Linked DNA regions of Homo sapiens. The protein of the gene in region 1 interacts with the protein of each later gene in a pairwise test. Each region holds a gene or a part of one and is shown on either strand. Other genes may lie near its edges.

Region 1 (7,024 bases):
AACTCCTGGCCTCAAGTGATCTGGCCACAACTTCCAGTTGTCTGGGGAAGTATTATCTTTTCAGCATCTCTAGTTCAGGCCACTGGCATCTCTTGCCTGGATTTTCGCAAGGGCCTTCAAGCTTCTTCTGGGGAAGTGTGACATACCCAACTAGATCTTGTGACCTTCCTCCACCAAACACATTTCTCCCTCAGACTTCCCTATCTCAGTGAATCAAATCACTGTGCACCCAGTGGGAAACCTAGACATCACCTTTGACACGACCCTCTTTCTCACCTACATGTCCATTATTCAGTTTATCTCCTAAAAATTTCTTAAATCTTCTCATGTTTTTCCATCTCCATTGACAGCTCCCCAGTCCAAACCACCACGATCACTTGCCTGGACTACTACAACAGCCACACTTGTCTTCCTGCTTTGACTCCTTGTCCTCACCTAGACCTCTGCCCTTCCACCTAGTGGTCAGAGTGATCTTTTCAAAATAAAACTGTAATCATGTATTCCCACCCCAAATCTTTCAGTGGCCTCTTGTTGCTTTCAGGATAGAACCAACACCTATGGCATGGCCCCCAAGGTCCTGCCTCCCTCTTTCTGTGCCTCTTTCTCTCTTGTTTTTCTTGGGCTGCCTATTGCCTGTCCATCAGTTCCTCAAACCTACTCTGATGTTCCCTTCCTTGGGGACTTCACTCAGGCTTACTTTCTGTCTGAAACTTTTTACCATCTGCTTAATGCATATGCATCCCTCCTTCCTCAGCTCAAACATCACTTCGAAGGGAAGGCCTCCTTGGCACTCCCACTCCTAGGCTAACTTAGACCCTCCCAGTACATACACAACTGTGCTAACTGGGCTAATTTTAACTTTGTTACCATTGGCCTTAGGTGGGTCCTAAGTGCTTCCCAGCTAGCCTGGTACATTCTCTCGTCCACTTTTTCTGCCACTCTCCTGAACAACTGTTTCTTACCTTCTTATTCCTCAAACCTCCACATGCCTCTTCTGCCATCTTCACCCTCACCTGATGACTTTGTTTCCTATCTCTTTATTTTATTTTATTTTATTTTATTTTTTGAGATGGAGTCTCACTCTGTTGCCCAGGCTGGACTGCAGTAGTGCGACCTTGGTTCACTGCAACCTCTGCTTCCCAGGTTCAAGTGATTCTCCTGTCTCAGCCTTCCAAGTAGCTGGGATTACAGGCACGCACCACCATGCCTGGCTAATTTTTGTATTTTTAGTAGAGATGGGGTTTCACCATGTTGGCCAGGCTGGTCACAAACTCCTGACCTCAGGTGATCCACCTGCCTTGGCCTCCCAAGGTGCTGGGATTACAAATGTGAGCCACCGCACCTGGGCTGTTTCTTATCTCTAATGATTGCTTCTGTTTTCTCAGAAAATGTCCATATATTTTTATCACAACATCTACTTATGTGACTGCATCTGCATCTGTGTGCAGTGCCTTCTCTCCTGTTACCATGGATGAACACATTGTGCTAGCTAAGGTCAAGCCCCCCACTTGTCACAAGACCCCAAATCTTTCTGCCTACTCAAAGACATTGTTCCAGCAACACCCACCCCCATCTCTCCTGCATTCTCAGTTTTTCCTTTTCTTTGGATCATTCCATATATAGTAATATATGGAATATAAAATGCATATAAATATGCTATGATTTCTCTTATTTCAGAAAAAAACTCTTGATCCTACATCTCCCTCCAGCTATCACTCCATTTCTATGCTCCACTTTAAAACAAAACTCAAAAGAGTTAATATTCAGTGTCTAGTTCCTCTCCTCCTATTCTTTCCTTCAATCCAATTGTTCTAGTTAAGGTCGTGAGCTTCATTTCCAACTCCAGGTTGTTAAACGCAGGAGTCAGTTATCAGCCTACCTTTGATAACTTTGCATTTGATGCTGACACTCCCTCCTCCTTGGAACAATTCCTTTGGTTTCCAGGGGACCACACTTCTGGTTTCTGCTTACCGGCAGGAACTCCTTTTCCATGCTCTCTTGTTGGTTCTTTTTCATCTTCACAACTGAAAATGTGAGTGCCCCAGGGCTCAGGGGCAGTCCTTTGATCCCCTCCTTTTCTTGTCTACCTCACTCCTGAGCAGCCCATCACCTCATGCCTTTAAATGTCCTGTTGAAGCCGGACGCGGTGGCTTACGCCTGTAATCCGAGCACTTTGGGAGGCTAAGGTGGGTGGATCACCTGAGGTCAGGAGTTTGAGACTAGCCTGACCAACATGGTGAAACCCCATCTCTACTAAAAATACAAAATTAGCCGGGCGTGGTGGCAGGCGCCTGTAATCCCAGCTACTTGCGAGGCTGAGGCAGGAGAATTGCTTAAACCTGGGAGGCGGAGGTTGCAATGAGCCGAGATCATGCCATTGCCCTCCAGCCTGGGCAACAAGTGCGAGACTCCATCTCAAAAAAAAAAAAAAAAAAATGCCCCGTTGGTGATCATGACTCTAAGACTATCCCATTTCTATCTCCAGACTTGCTTGCATAACCTAGTGCCTACTCAGTATCTTCATGTGGTTGTCTGATGTGATATAGAAGTCCATGTCAAACTTAACGTGCTCAGAAAATGAACTCATGATCTTCCTGTCCAAATTGCGCCTCCTGCAACCTTTCTCATCTAAATGAGTGGCAATTTGGTCTTCTAGTTGGTCAGGCCAAACACCCAGAAACCATCCTGAGCTTTTTTTTTTTTTTTGAGACAGGTTCTCACTCTGTTGCCCAGGCTGGAGTGAAAGTAGCACAATCATGGCTCACTAAAGCCCTGAACTTTCAACCTCCCGAGGCTCAAGCAATCCTCTGACCTCAGCCTCCCGAGTAGCTGGGACTACAGGATGTGCCACCACACCCAGCTAATTTTTGTATTTTTTATAGAGACGAGGTTTTGCTATGTTGCCCAGACTGGTCTCAAACTCCTGGACTCAAGCAGTCATCCCGCATTGGCCTCCCAAAGTGTAATCCAAAGGGATTACAGGCGTGAGCCACTGTGCCTGGCCCATCCCAAGCTTTTCTCTCTCTCTCATATTTTATATCCAATCTATTGGCAAATCCTGTTGACTCTACCTTCAAAATATATTCAGGATCTGACCATTTCTTAGCCATTGCTACTGCCCTGGTTTAAACCATCATCATCTCTCACCTGAGTCATTGCCATCACCTCCTAACTGGTCTCCTAGCTTCTGACCTTGCCCTCCTGTACTCTTCTCATCATAGCAGCCAGCATGCTCCTCCTAAAGCATGCCAGCGTGTGCCATTCTTTTTTTTTTGAGACAGAGTCTTGCACTTGTTGCCCAGGTCGGAGTGCAATGGCACAATCTCGGCTCATTGCAACCTTCGCCTCCCAGGTTCAAGCGATTCTCCTGCCTCAGCCTCCCTAGTAGCTGGCATTACAGGCGCCCGCCACCACACCCAGCTAATTTTTTTGTATTTTTAGTAGATATGGGGTTTCACCATTTTGGTCAGGCTGGTCTGACCACTCAATTTAAAATTTCATTCTCCAGCCACTCAATTTAAAATTACATTCAGGCTGCCAAGACTTTGTCCTCTATGCCCTGGGGTCTCTGGACCTTCCAGGTAGGAGCCGAGAACCCTTGGTTGGTCCCTCTAACTTGCATTTCTCCCCATCCCTCAAGCAATTCTTATCCCCCTTCCCTGCTTGGGGCTTCACCATGGCATATATTACCATCTGATGTACAGTGTATTTTATTTTATTTATTTTGTTTGTTGTTATCATCTGTTTCTTGCCACTGGACCATAAGCTCTGTGAGGGGGGATTCTTATCTTCTTAGTTCATCATTATGTTCTCAGCACTTGGCATATAGGCACATAATAAATATGAATGAATGAATGGATTCCTAGTACTTCTTGCTTCTCTTTCTATCATAGTCATCATGATTATGATGCAGTACCTAGTGTGTCTCTACCTCTAGAATGAAACAAAGAAAGCTGTGTTTTTGTCTTGCTCACCTTATATACCCAGCACTTAGAAGGTTCTCCAAATTATATCTACTGCATGAATGAAGGTTTCTGAGATGCTAATCTGACCATCTTCACCCGTTTCTGCCCTTAAAGCTTACTGCCCTCAGTATCGAACCTGAATCTTCTTAGCATGTCATAATCACTTTCCCTTTGTCTCATGTCTTGACACTTTTCTCCCCCTTCCACATCCTCTAAGATGCAGCCTTTCCTGAATATGCCATGCTCTTTCACTCCCAGGCCTTTGTACTCACTGTTCTCTTCTTGGAAAGCTCCACCTGACTAACTCCTACTTGTCCTTTAGGGCTCAGCTGAGGTCACATTTTCTGGGAAGCTTTCCAGACCCTTAAGGCGAGCTTGTGTCAGTGGGGGTGGGTACAGAACCCATCTCCAGCTTAGTCCTGCCCAGGCTTCTGCTGACATCTGATTGTTGTGTGTTGGCCAGAGAGGTTGAAGATTAGCTCAGAGAGAATGTTGATGTTGTAGAATGTAGAGTAATGAGAATAGCAGTGGGTGAAATGGAGGTTGAGGCAACTAAAAGCCAGTGTGGGCTCTGGGCTGTCAAGACATTGTCCTCTATGCTCTGAGGTCTCTGGACCTTCCAGGCAGGAGCCAAGAACCCTTGGTTGGTTCCTCTGACTTGCATTTTTCCTCCTTCCTCTCTCTCAGGGGGGGATGTTACCATCACTGACCTGCCCCTGGCCCTAGAACAGATCCAGGGCAACGTCCAGGCCAATGTGCCAGCTGGAGGCCAGGCCCAGGTGCGTGCCTTGTCCTGGGGGATTGACCATCATGTCTTCCCTGCAAACTATGACCTGGTGCTGGGGGCTGATATCGTGTACCTGGAACCCACCTTCCCTCTGCTGCTGGGGACCCTCCAACACCTGTGCAGGCCCCATGGCACCATCTATCTGGCCTCCAAGATGAGAAAGGAGCATGGGACAGAGAGCTTCTTTCAGCACCTCCTGCCCCAGCATTTCCAACTGGAGCTGGCTCAGCGGGATGAGGATGAAAATGTCAACATCTATAGGGCCAGGCACAGGGAACCAAGACCTGCTTGACATCACCCTTGCTGTTCTTCTCAATCTCTTGCTCTAATGAAGGAACTGTGTATCTCAAAAACCATATTTCCAGAGCCACAAACATGAGGACCAAAAAGGATGGATTTCCCTGGCCTCTCTCACTTTCCTCCTTCCCTCTTTGTTACCCCAGATACTCTTGGGCAGGTGCAGTGAGGTGCCTGCTTACAAGGAATCCCAGAGTTCTGGCAGCACTAGTGTTAGAACACCAAGGAGGTTCCTGGCTCCTGTTCTCAGAGAAGGAGGATGGTAAGGTATCCAGGATTTTTAGGGGGTAAGGGAGATATATGGGATGTGAGAGCAGTGATTGTAGACAGACTGTCACTGATCACTTCCATTCCTGTTGCTGTTTACACAGAATGGACTTTAAAAAAATTCTGTGGGATTTTTTTTTCTTTTTTTCTTTTTTTTTGAGACAGGGTCTCACTCTGTCATCCAGGCTGGAGTGCAGTGGTGTGATCACAGCTCACTGCAGCCTCAACCTCTGAAGGCCCAGATGATCTTCCTGCCTCAGCTCCCCAAGTAGCTGGGACTAGAGGCATGCGCCACCACACCCGGCTAATTTTTGTATTTTCAGTAGAGACAGGGTTTCGCCATGTTGCCCAGGGTGGTCTCAAACTCCTGGGCTCAAGTGATCCACCCGCCTTGCCTCCCAAAGTGCTGGGATTGCAGGCATGGCCCACTGTGCTAGCCTAGGATTTTTTTTTTTTTTTAAGAAAGAATTAAGCCTTAAAAATCTATTGTGCAAGAACCCAACTTTTACTCAGGAGCTGAGAAGGAAGAAGCCTCAAACCACCCATTTCCTGCTTTTTAGAGATAGAGTCTAGTGGAACCATGGCTCTAACTGGGTCAAGTCCTCCTAGCTCTGAAGCTAAGGCTGCAGAGCTGTCCTTTGGACTGTATTTCTTCATGCTTTCCAGAGTTAGAGCCTTGATCACGGAACATCATTGTGTGCAGAAGAATACTGTACCTAGTACTAAGTTCTTTTCATCTTTGATTTTTCTTTAGCTTCATCAGTCCTTCCTTCCTAATCTCTAATCCCCTGAAGCCTAACACAGTTCCTAATGTGTTTTGCCTTAACCTCTTTTCTCTTCCCACATTGGTACTTCTGGTTGGGGCTCTCTTTACTTACTGCTTAGGCACATAGTCACCTTCTCTGGACTCCCTGCTTCCATGCTTTCTCCTTCAGTCCATTCCGCAAACTCTTGTGATCTTCCAAAATTAGCTCTGATTAGCTTTCACTTCCTGTAGAAGCAAGAACAAGCTCCTCTGCTTGGTACTTAGTCTGTGTCCATGTGATCCAAAATTACCTTCCTATTGCATTTCCTACTCCTTTGCTACGTGTATTGGACCTCTGGCCAAATTACAAAAGATGTACTCTTTGTTCTCTAAAACCACACTAAAGTTTTCTGACTTCTTTCACACTCTTTATGATAATCCTCTGCCTGAAAGGCTATTGCCACCTGTCAAAATCTTCATTATTCTTTGCCTCTTTCCTGAGCCTCTTGCTTGAATGTGATTTCTTTCTCCCTGAGACCCATAAGGTTCATCTTATGGGACCTTAATTTGTCTTGCATGGACATTTGTGATTCTCATTTTCTCACCATTAAATTACCTTGGAGGGTAGGGCTGTGGTTTACTCCTGTCTAAACCCCTGAAGCCTAACACAGTTCCTGGCACACAACAGGTGTTCAACAGATATTGTGCTCATTCAATAAATATTTACTCGCTTTGTTTAATGGATTCCACCCCTGCCTTCCTAGGTGACCTTGGACAAATTCTCGAACCCATTCACCAACCACACAAGTTTGTTGTGAGTCATAAATGGATAATGAATATAAATGCGCATTGAAAATAAACATAAAATGTTACCCACATTTCTTGTGTTGTTGTTTTGTGACGACTTTATTTCTTGGTTTCTGTTATTTTACCTGGGGTGGGAGGTGGGGGGTAATTCCCGTA
Region 2 (7,505 bases), on another chromosome or scaffold:
AGGCAGGAGAATTGCTTGAACCCAGGAGGTGGTTGCAGTGAGCTGAGATGGCGCCACTGCACTCCAGCCTGGGCGAAAGCAAGACTCCATCTCAAAAAAAAGAAACAAAACAAAACAAAACAAAAGAAACAAAAAACCTTGTTGGATCTCTGTCCTATTGTTGGACATTTCCATTGCTTCCAATTCTCCAGTATTAAACACCACGTTAAGGCGAACATCCTGAAAGTTAAAGTAGTTTTGAAAACTCTCTCAAACTATATCTTTTCCTCTGCTCGTACACCAACACAACAACAATCATCCACACAGAAGTCTTCTGTGATCAAATGTGTGGGTTTTTTCCCTAAATGCCAAGCAGCAGACACCAACTGAGTGCCTTCCAATTCGATTCTGACATGATCTACCCGGAGATAGTGTCAGATCCCACAGATTGAGGCCTCAGTTCCCAAGACTGCCCACCCAGCCCCAAGACACCAGTTGCCAGTCTGGCCTCTGGAACTTCTGACCAACTGGCTTCACGCTGGGGTTCCTACAACCTCCTCTTTGGGCTTAATTTGCTGGAGTGGGTCACAGAACTCAGGGAAGCACTGACTGACTTTTACTGGCTTACTGTAAAGGGTATTACGAAGGATACAGCTGAAGAGATGCATAGGGCGAGATATGGAGGAAGGGGTATGGAGCTTCCATGCCCTCCTGGGCATGCCACCCAGCCTCCACACGTTCAGCTATTCAGAAGCCCTCTGAACCCTGTCCTCTTGGGGTTTATGGAGGCTTCACGACATCTGCATTCCTTCCTCCCAGAGTATAGGGCAGGACCCTCTCTGGGGAGGGTCTTAAGACTCGCAATCAGAAAGGTGTGGGAAAATTAGGGTCCTGACTTGGGGCAGGTGAAAGCAGAGCAGGAGAAGGTCAGAGAGATTCCGTTTCCTGGGGCCTGCCCTGAGGCCCAACACATTATAGCCAAAGACCGTAACAAGGGCAATGGGAGCTATGAGCCAGTAGCCGAGGATGAAAATCAATACCTAACACCACATGGGTTTTTTTTTCCCCCATCTTTGAGGGACTTTACATCTCTGAGGGCTTTTCAGTGAGGAATTTAAGCTCATAGAGGGGTTATGCCCTGCCTAAGGTCACACAGGAACTATGGCCTCCACCTCAGCCTTTGCCTCCAACCCAGGACACTGCTCAGTGTCCAGTACTGTTTCTGCTTCTTAGGAGGCCTCCACATCCCCCTGCACCCCAAAATCAGTTGGGCCCATCATATCTGGGGTTGGGGACCTCTGGACTCCAAGTCCCCCACCCTTGCTCCCTGGAAGACAGTGTCCCCTCCATACATGGTGCTGTGAATGCTGGTCTGCAGATCCCTGCTTCTCCCTCCTGTACTAATTTTAGCTCCTGTGAGTTTCCTGTAGGGACCCAGTCCAGCCTCCAGGGCCTCTGAACTGGAAGCTGTGAGCAAGGCAGGGGGTAGTGGCCAGAGGACCCTGTGGAATGTTCTCTCCTGGAGCCTGAAATCCCAGGGCTTAAAGTTTAGCTCTGGGGGAGCTGGGGGTAGGAAATGAGGACCCCCAGTCACAAAGCTAGGCTAGGATCCAGGGACTCAGCCTAGGGTGGGGGTGGGAGCTGGGCAGCCTAGGCCTGTGCCACAGCAGCTGGGGCCTGCTGGGAGTTGGCTGTCCCTGACCTCATCAGCCCCAGGCTCAGCTCAGAATAGCTGTGGGGCTGGGCCAGGCCTGTGTCAGACCTGCGTGTGCTTGAGCATGTGCTTTGTGTACTAAGGCACTGGTGCACATGGGAGTGCATGTGCATTCTGCATGCAGCTTTGTGTGTGGCTGGGTATGAGTCTCAATGGCTCCAGAATCACAGGTGCCATTCACATACGTGTGTGTTCCCTGGAGTAGTGTGCAGGTCTGTGTCCCTGTGGATGGGCACATGATCTGCACACGCATACCCAGGGCTGCCACTAGAGTTGTGCAACTTGGAGTCCTTACCAGTGGGTTCAATGGTAGATGGGTCCATGTGGCACAGGGACCCACCCATTCCCTGACTGTGGAATTGTATCTGTGTGCAGCGGGTGTGGGAGTGGTGTGGGTGGGTATACACATCTGTGGTGGGATTGGCTAGGGGCCCTTGGCTGTGCTGCAGGGGACTGAAGGCAGGTGGACTCAGCAGAGGCTGTCCTTTGGGCACTACCAGAGGCCTTACCTGGCCCCAAGCCAAGAATGAGCTGTAAGAGAGGCTGGGCAGGTCTTGCCCCATTTAGCAGATAGGAAAACTGGGCTTGCAATGCCCATGAGGTCACCCAGGGAATGGGGGAAGGACTGGTCTGCTGCCCAGAGCTCAGTCAGCCTTTCTATTCCCCTAGATGTGGCTGAACAGGAAGTCTGTGCTCTAGGGAGGAAGCCGTGGGAGCCCTTCCCTTCCTGCTCGAGCCCAGGCAGCACTGCCTTCCCTCAGCTGCACGTGCAGATGATGAAAGTGAGGCCCAGAGACACCTAGCATAAGATCAGATCTGTCCTGCTCGGGGCCTTGCCCCACCTGTCCCTGTTCGTCACAAGTGGTGAGGCCATATGCTCCTCCTGAGGCCATGGCCACTCTCCAGCCCTTGCCTCCCTCCTAAGCCCCAGGGATGCCTGGTGGCCCACACCCATGCTCTAGGGGACCCATAGATCCTCTAAACCGTGCTCATCCCTGAAGGAGCCCCTTGAACCCACCATACCCCTCCTCTCAGAGTCCCACATAACCCCGAGAAGGAGGCGCAGGTAAGATATTTCACCAGCAGGGGCACTACGTTACAGAGAGGCCACACACTGCCTGTGATCACACAGCAAGAGGAAAGCAGCACAAGGCCCCATACCAGCTCTTCCAGAATGTACCGCTACCTCCCACTGCCCCACAGGCACAAAGGATCCCCACAGGGAAGACCTTGGAGGCCTGTTTAGAACCTGAAGCCTCAGTTCATTCCACCTGCTGGGGCGGTGGCTCTGCCAGGCTGTGCTGTAGACTCAGGGAGCCAAGTGCCCCAGCAGACAGTCCCGCAGGCCAACAGGGCTGTGAAGGGGAGTGGGGGCCAAGGTCCGGAGCCTGGGGGTGGAGGGCATGGGGAGGGGAGGCTTTCCCAGAGGGCCAGAGGGACACCTCACCAGAAGCCTCCTTGAGGTAGCCCCCACCCACCAACACAGCAACACCTCTAGCAGGCAGGGACCAGAGGAGCAAGGCCTTTGGGAGTGGAGCCCCTCAGGCAGCAGGGGGTGCAGAAGGGGGCAAGAAAACAAGGCTGGAAAAGGGGAGGCCAGAGCTAGGGCGGGCTTTGGCAATGTGGGGAGGGATGGAGAAGCAGGAAGGGGCGGCTCTGCAGGATTGGGACCCAGGAGGAGAGCAATGTGGGGCAAAAGGGTGAGGTCACTGGGACCTGCAGTCACTCAGACAAGGGTCCCAGGCTGGAAACCCTCCAAGGGGTGATGTGCAGCTTGGCAGACAGTAAACTCCCACCTCGCAACAACCCAAGGGAGCCAGGGGATGAGCTTGGCAGGCCCCAGGCCCCTACTTACCTCCACTGGGGGTCTCTTCAGCCTGGCAGGTTGGGGGATGCCTCCCACCTCCTCAGTAGGGGGCTGAGTAGGGGGCTGGTGGGCCACCCTTTCTGCTCTTCCACGGCCGCCTTGGACCCTGAGCCTCCCCCTCACTGGAACCTGAGTGCCACTGAGAGCAATGGGTGACTAACCTGGTGGCCAGAGGGGGAATCAGGCTGCTGACGGGGGGCTTCTTTGTTACAGGTTTGAACTAAGTTCCCTCCCGCTCCCGGGGGGTCTGTCCCAGATAAGTCTTCAGCCACCCTTTCCAAGGTCTCAGGCCTTCGCACAAAGCACACGCGGCCGGCTTCATGCTCTACTAGGCCTGTTGAGACTCAGGAGTGGGGAGGAAAGGGGACTTCCCCAAGGTCGCACAGGAGGGGCGGCCGGCCGTGGACACCCAGCCCAGGGGGCCGCAGGGCGCCTCAGTATACCCCTCTACAGGCTCCAAGTTCCACGAACCCACACAGCGCTCCGCGTGTGCTGGCTTCTGTGACTCAGGGCAGACCCGGGAGGTCACGGGGCTGCACCACAGGCTCGCAGAGCGACTGACTGGCGGGGCGAGGTGGTGGCACGGCGGCCTCGGAGCCTTGCAGGGGAAGCGGGGCGCGAGAGGCGAGCCTGAGTGTGCGCGTGGGTGCGTAGGGGGCGGAGGGGTCAAGACTCCCACTTTTCCTCCCCGCGCCGGGTCCCAGGGGCCTCCGGATCCCGGGGGACGCCAGAGGGAGGCCTCAGGAGAGGCTTGGGGCGGCGGGACGGATCAATACCGCGCGCCAGCTCCTCGGTGGCCCGCCCGTGGCCCCCGCAACTCCAGAGCAACACCCGGAGGCGGGGCGGGGCGGGGCTGGGCGAAGGGGGCGGGGCTGGCAGGGGGCGGGACTGGCAGGGGGCAGGGTGGGGGTGCGAGCGAGGAGCCGCACAGGCAGTCCCGGCGCGGGGCAACCACAGCGCTCAGGTAAGGGCGCGACGAAGGGCGCGCGTCTGCGGACGGGTGTCTGCGCTCCACGCTTAGCTCGTCCAGGTGGGGGCTCCCGCCTCCTCGGCTGCTGCGGTCCCCGCCCAGCTCCTTGGTCCCGGCGGCAGTCATCCCCCGGCCGTCCGAGTCCCTCGTAAGATACCCCGCTCACAGCGTCGTCCTCCCTGCCTGGCTGCTAGCCTGCTTGGGTTCGGGGCAGCGCCCCGGGCCTGACCTGAGCCGTGGTGGCAGGGCCACGGGGCCCCAGCCAGCAGGAGAGACTGCCAGGAGGAGGTGACGCCGGCTGGTTAGGGCGGAAGGGCCCGACCCGGGATTCCAGGAGGTGGCCTTTTCGCATGGGAGCGGCATGGCAAATGCCTGGCGGCCGGAACAGGAGCTCGGGTCTGGGAAACTCCAGCGACTGAGTGTGTGCCTGGGCAGGGAGAGGAAGGGAAGCTGGGACATATGCGACAGCAGGGAGGGGTGCTTGTCTAGGACAAGAGGCTTGTAGCCATGGTGGGGCCGAGGAAGGGTGCAGCGGGGAGAGGCGAGCATGAGACTGAGGGATCAGGTGTGACAGTTCAGCGCCCCCTCCCTGGGGCAGTGCGTGTCTCTACTCTCCCCCACTGGGCACCAGACAACGAAGGGGCTGCCACGGCAGCCCATGAAAAAGCCTCCACAGCAGGCAGAACTTCCCTGCCTGTTCAGACCAGGAAATACCAGAGTGAGTGAGTGTCACGACAAGGTGTGTCAGGGGCCTAAGGAGCCAGGCCTGGGAGAGGACAGGGAAGGCCCCAGTGACCCTGCCCGGGAGGGACCTAGCGTGGACAGAGGCCAGGAATGCAGAGGAGAGACCAGGTCTGGCTACTGGTTAGAGCGCCACAGGGGCAGCCGCTGACTCACCTGGGCACGCCGTGACTGGCCAGTTCTGTCCTCACCCTGCCCCACCCCACCGCACCCCGTGGTGAGCATCAGGGCTGCCTGAGGACAGCTGTGAGGCAGGGCCCGTCAGGATCTTGCTCTGTGCCTCAGGTGAGTTGCCCACCCTCTCTGAGCCATCTAGCTAGGTGAACCTGGTGGGCTGGAGCCAGAAGTCTGGGTCTGAGCCCTGCACAAGTTCTACACAAGGGTCTCTGGACCCTCCCATTGTTCCTGGGCCTCAGTTTCCCCATCTGTACATTAGGCACAGCCTGTCACTAAGGAACCTTTGAACTGGAGGGAGGGAGAGGGTGAGGAAGCTATGCCCTTGACTGGAAGGGGGAAGGTTAGGGATGGGACAGGGGTTGGGGAGGGGGGTACTCCTGCAGGATCCTCCTCATATTAAGGTTCAGCACCTCCTCCTCCTGCCCTGCAAACGTGCACACTCATGCACATTCACGCTGCCTCACCCCTGCACTTACACTCTCCTCATCACTTCCAGGATGAAGCCCCAGACTCCCTAGCCTGGGAGCTGGGTCCCTCAGGGTCACCTAACCAGAATCCCAGCTTCCACTGCGGCCTTCCCCCAACCCACTGCCTCACCAGCCATGCTTAACTTCTGCCCGTTCCTCTGGGTGGTGTGACTCAGTTTCCCAGGGTTATAGATCCCTTTGGGGCCACAGATGTGGAAGACTCCCAGATTAACAGTTGCCAACTTGAGTCTGGAGGACTCACCCCCGGAGTCATAGGCTGCTTTGTGGGGTGGGGAGTCTAAGGACCAGATCCCCACACCCAGAGAAGCCCCCTTCCACCTGTTTGTCCTTTTGAGGGGAGACTTAAGTAGTTTGAAAAGCTGTGATCCTCTTTGGCTGGGCGCAGTGGCTCACGCCTGTAATCCCAGCACTTTGGGAGGCCAAGATGGGTTGATCACTTGAGGCTAGGAGTTTGAGACCAGCCTCGTCAACATAGTGAGATCCCATCTCTAAAAAAAAAAAAAAAAAAGAATAGAAAGAAATACAAACAAATAAAAAGAAAAAAATGCTGTGATCTGGTTGAACCCCCATTTCGTAGAGGGGTGGCTGAGGTACAGAGAGGAGTAAGGCTGTGGATAAGTTGAAGCATGTCCAGGGCTGAGCAGCCAGGTGAGGGCTGCTCCTGGGGGAGCAGCTGAGACTGGGCAGTGGGGACGAGGGACAGGAAGCCTGAGGAGGAGAGGCTATCTCTAGGGTCAGAGAGCTCCTTGCCAGGGTATGGTGTCGGCTGGGGTCATGGTGCTGGCCCCCCGGAGAGTGTAGGGATGTTGGTGTTCAAGTCTTCCTAGCAGCGAGTTATTTACTGCAGTATCTTTTCAACGTGCACTGATCTGGTTCCTAGTCTGCATCTCCTATCCTAGCCTCACCCTTTCTTCTACCTTCCCAACCAGGCTTGGATATCCTCACCTCTTAGCTTAGACCCCAGCTGACTGCCAGCTGAGAGTGAAAAGGTCACCCCCAAAGCGCCTTTCCATTCCAGCAGTTTCGGGAGATACGGGTGAGAGTTAGGTGGGCCTGGCTGCACCCCTATTCCCTTGGCTGGGCTTTCCTTGTCTGCCTGAGCTGACCTGGAGCCCCCTGTGTCCTGGGGGCCTGGGTCTGCCTCAGGGGCCCACAGAGGGAGAAGAAGCTGCAGCACAGAAGCTGCAGCTGGGTGTCTGGTGGCTTCCCCTTCCTGCCTCTCTCTCTGCAGCCTCACCCTCTCGAAGCAGCAGTAGCAGGAAAGGTGGGGCAGGAATGCCTGGCCTGGGCCTTTGGCCAGAGCTCTGAGGGACCCGCCCCACTCCATTCCAGAGCCAATTCCCTGGGAGTTGTAGGCTCTGCCAGGGGCCTGGGATGCCCGCATGGCACTCTCGGGGCAGGGTGGAGAGGGGAGGGCTGAGACCCCTTCCCACTCACCCTTTTGGGTCTGCCTGTGTCACCTGCCCATCGTTGGCTGCCCTGATTTTGTCCCCTGCCCCACACAGGTTGGCTAACTCCAAAGCCTCAGCGTGTCAGAGACAAGGAGAGAGACAGTCTGCGGGTCTTGGG

The links. The genes of interacting proteins can lie anywhere in the genome.
Region 2: the proteins of EEF1AKMT3 (region 1) and ALS2CL interact in binary tests that used the Homo sapiens proteins (3 or more experiments, as listed by UniProt).

The regions. Positions count from the first base shown.
Region 1 is NC_000012.12:57,775,603-57,782,626, forward strand, and holds the end of EEF1AKMT3 (EEF1A lysine methyltransferase 3), read left to right. Parts: intron 1-4,652; coding exon 4,653-5,044; 3' UTR 5,045-6,939; downstream 6,940-7,024. UniProt on the Homo sapiens protein: Protein-lysine methyltransferase that selectively mono-, di- and trimethylates 'Lys-165' of the translation elongation factors EEF1A1 and EEF1A2 in an aminoacyl-tRNA and GTP-dependent manner.
Region 2 is NC_000003.12:46,690,662-46,698,166, reverse strand, and holds the start of ALS2CL (ALS2 C-terminal-like protein), read left to right. Parts: upstream 1-4,487; 5' UTR 4,488-4,524; exon of another isoform or gene 4,525-4,678; intron 4,679-7,505. UniProt on the Homo sapiens protein: Acts as a guanine nucleotide exchange factor (GEF) for Rab5 GTPase. Regulates the ALS2-mediated endosome dynamics.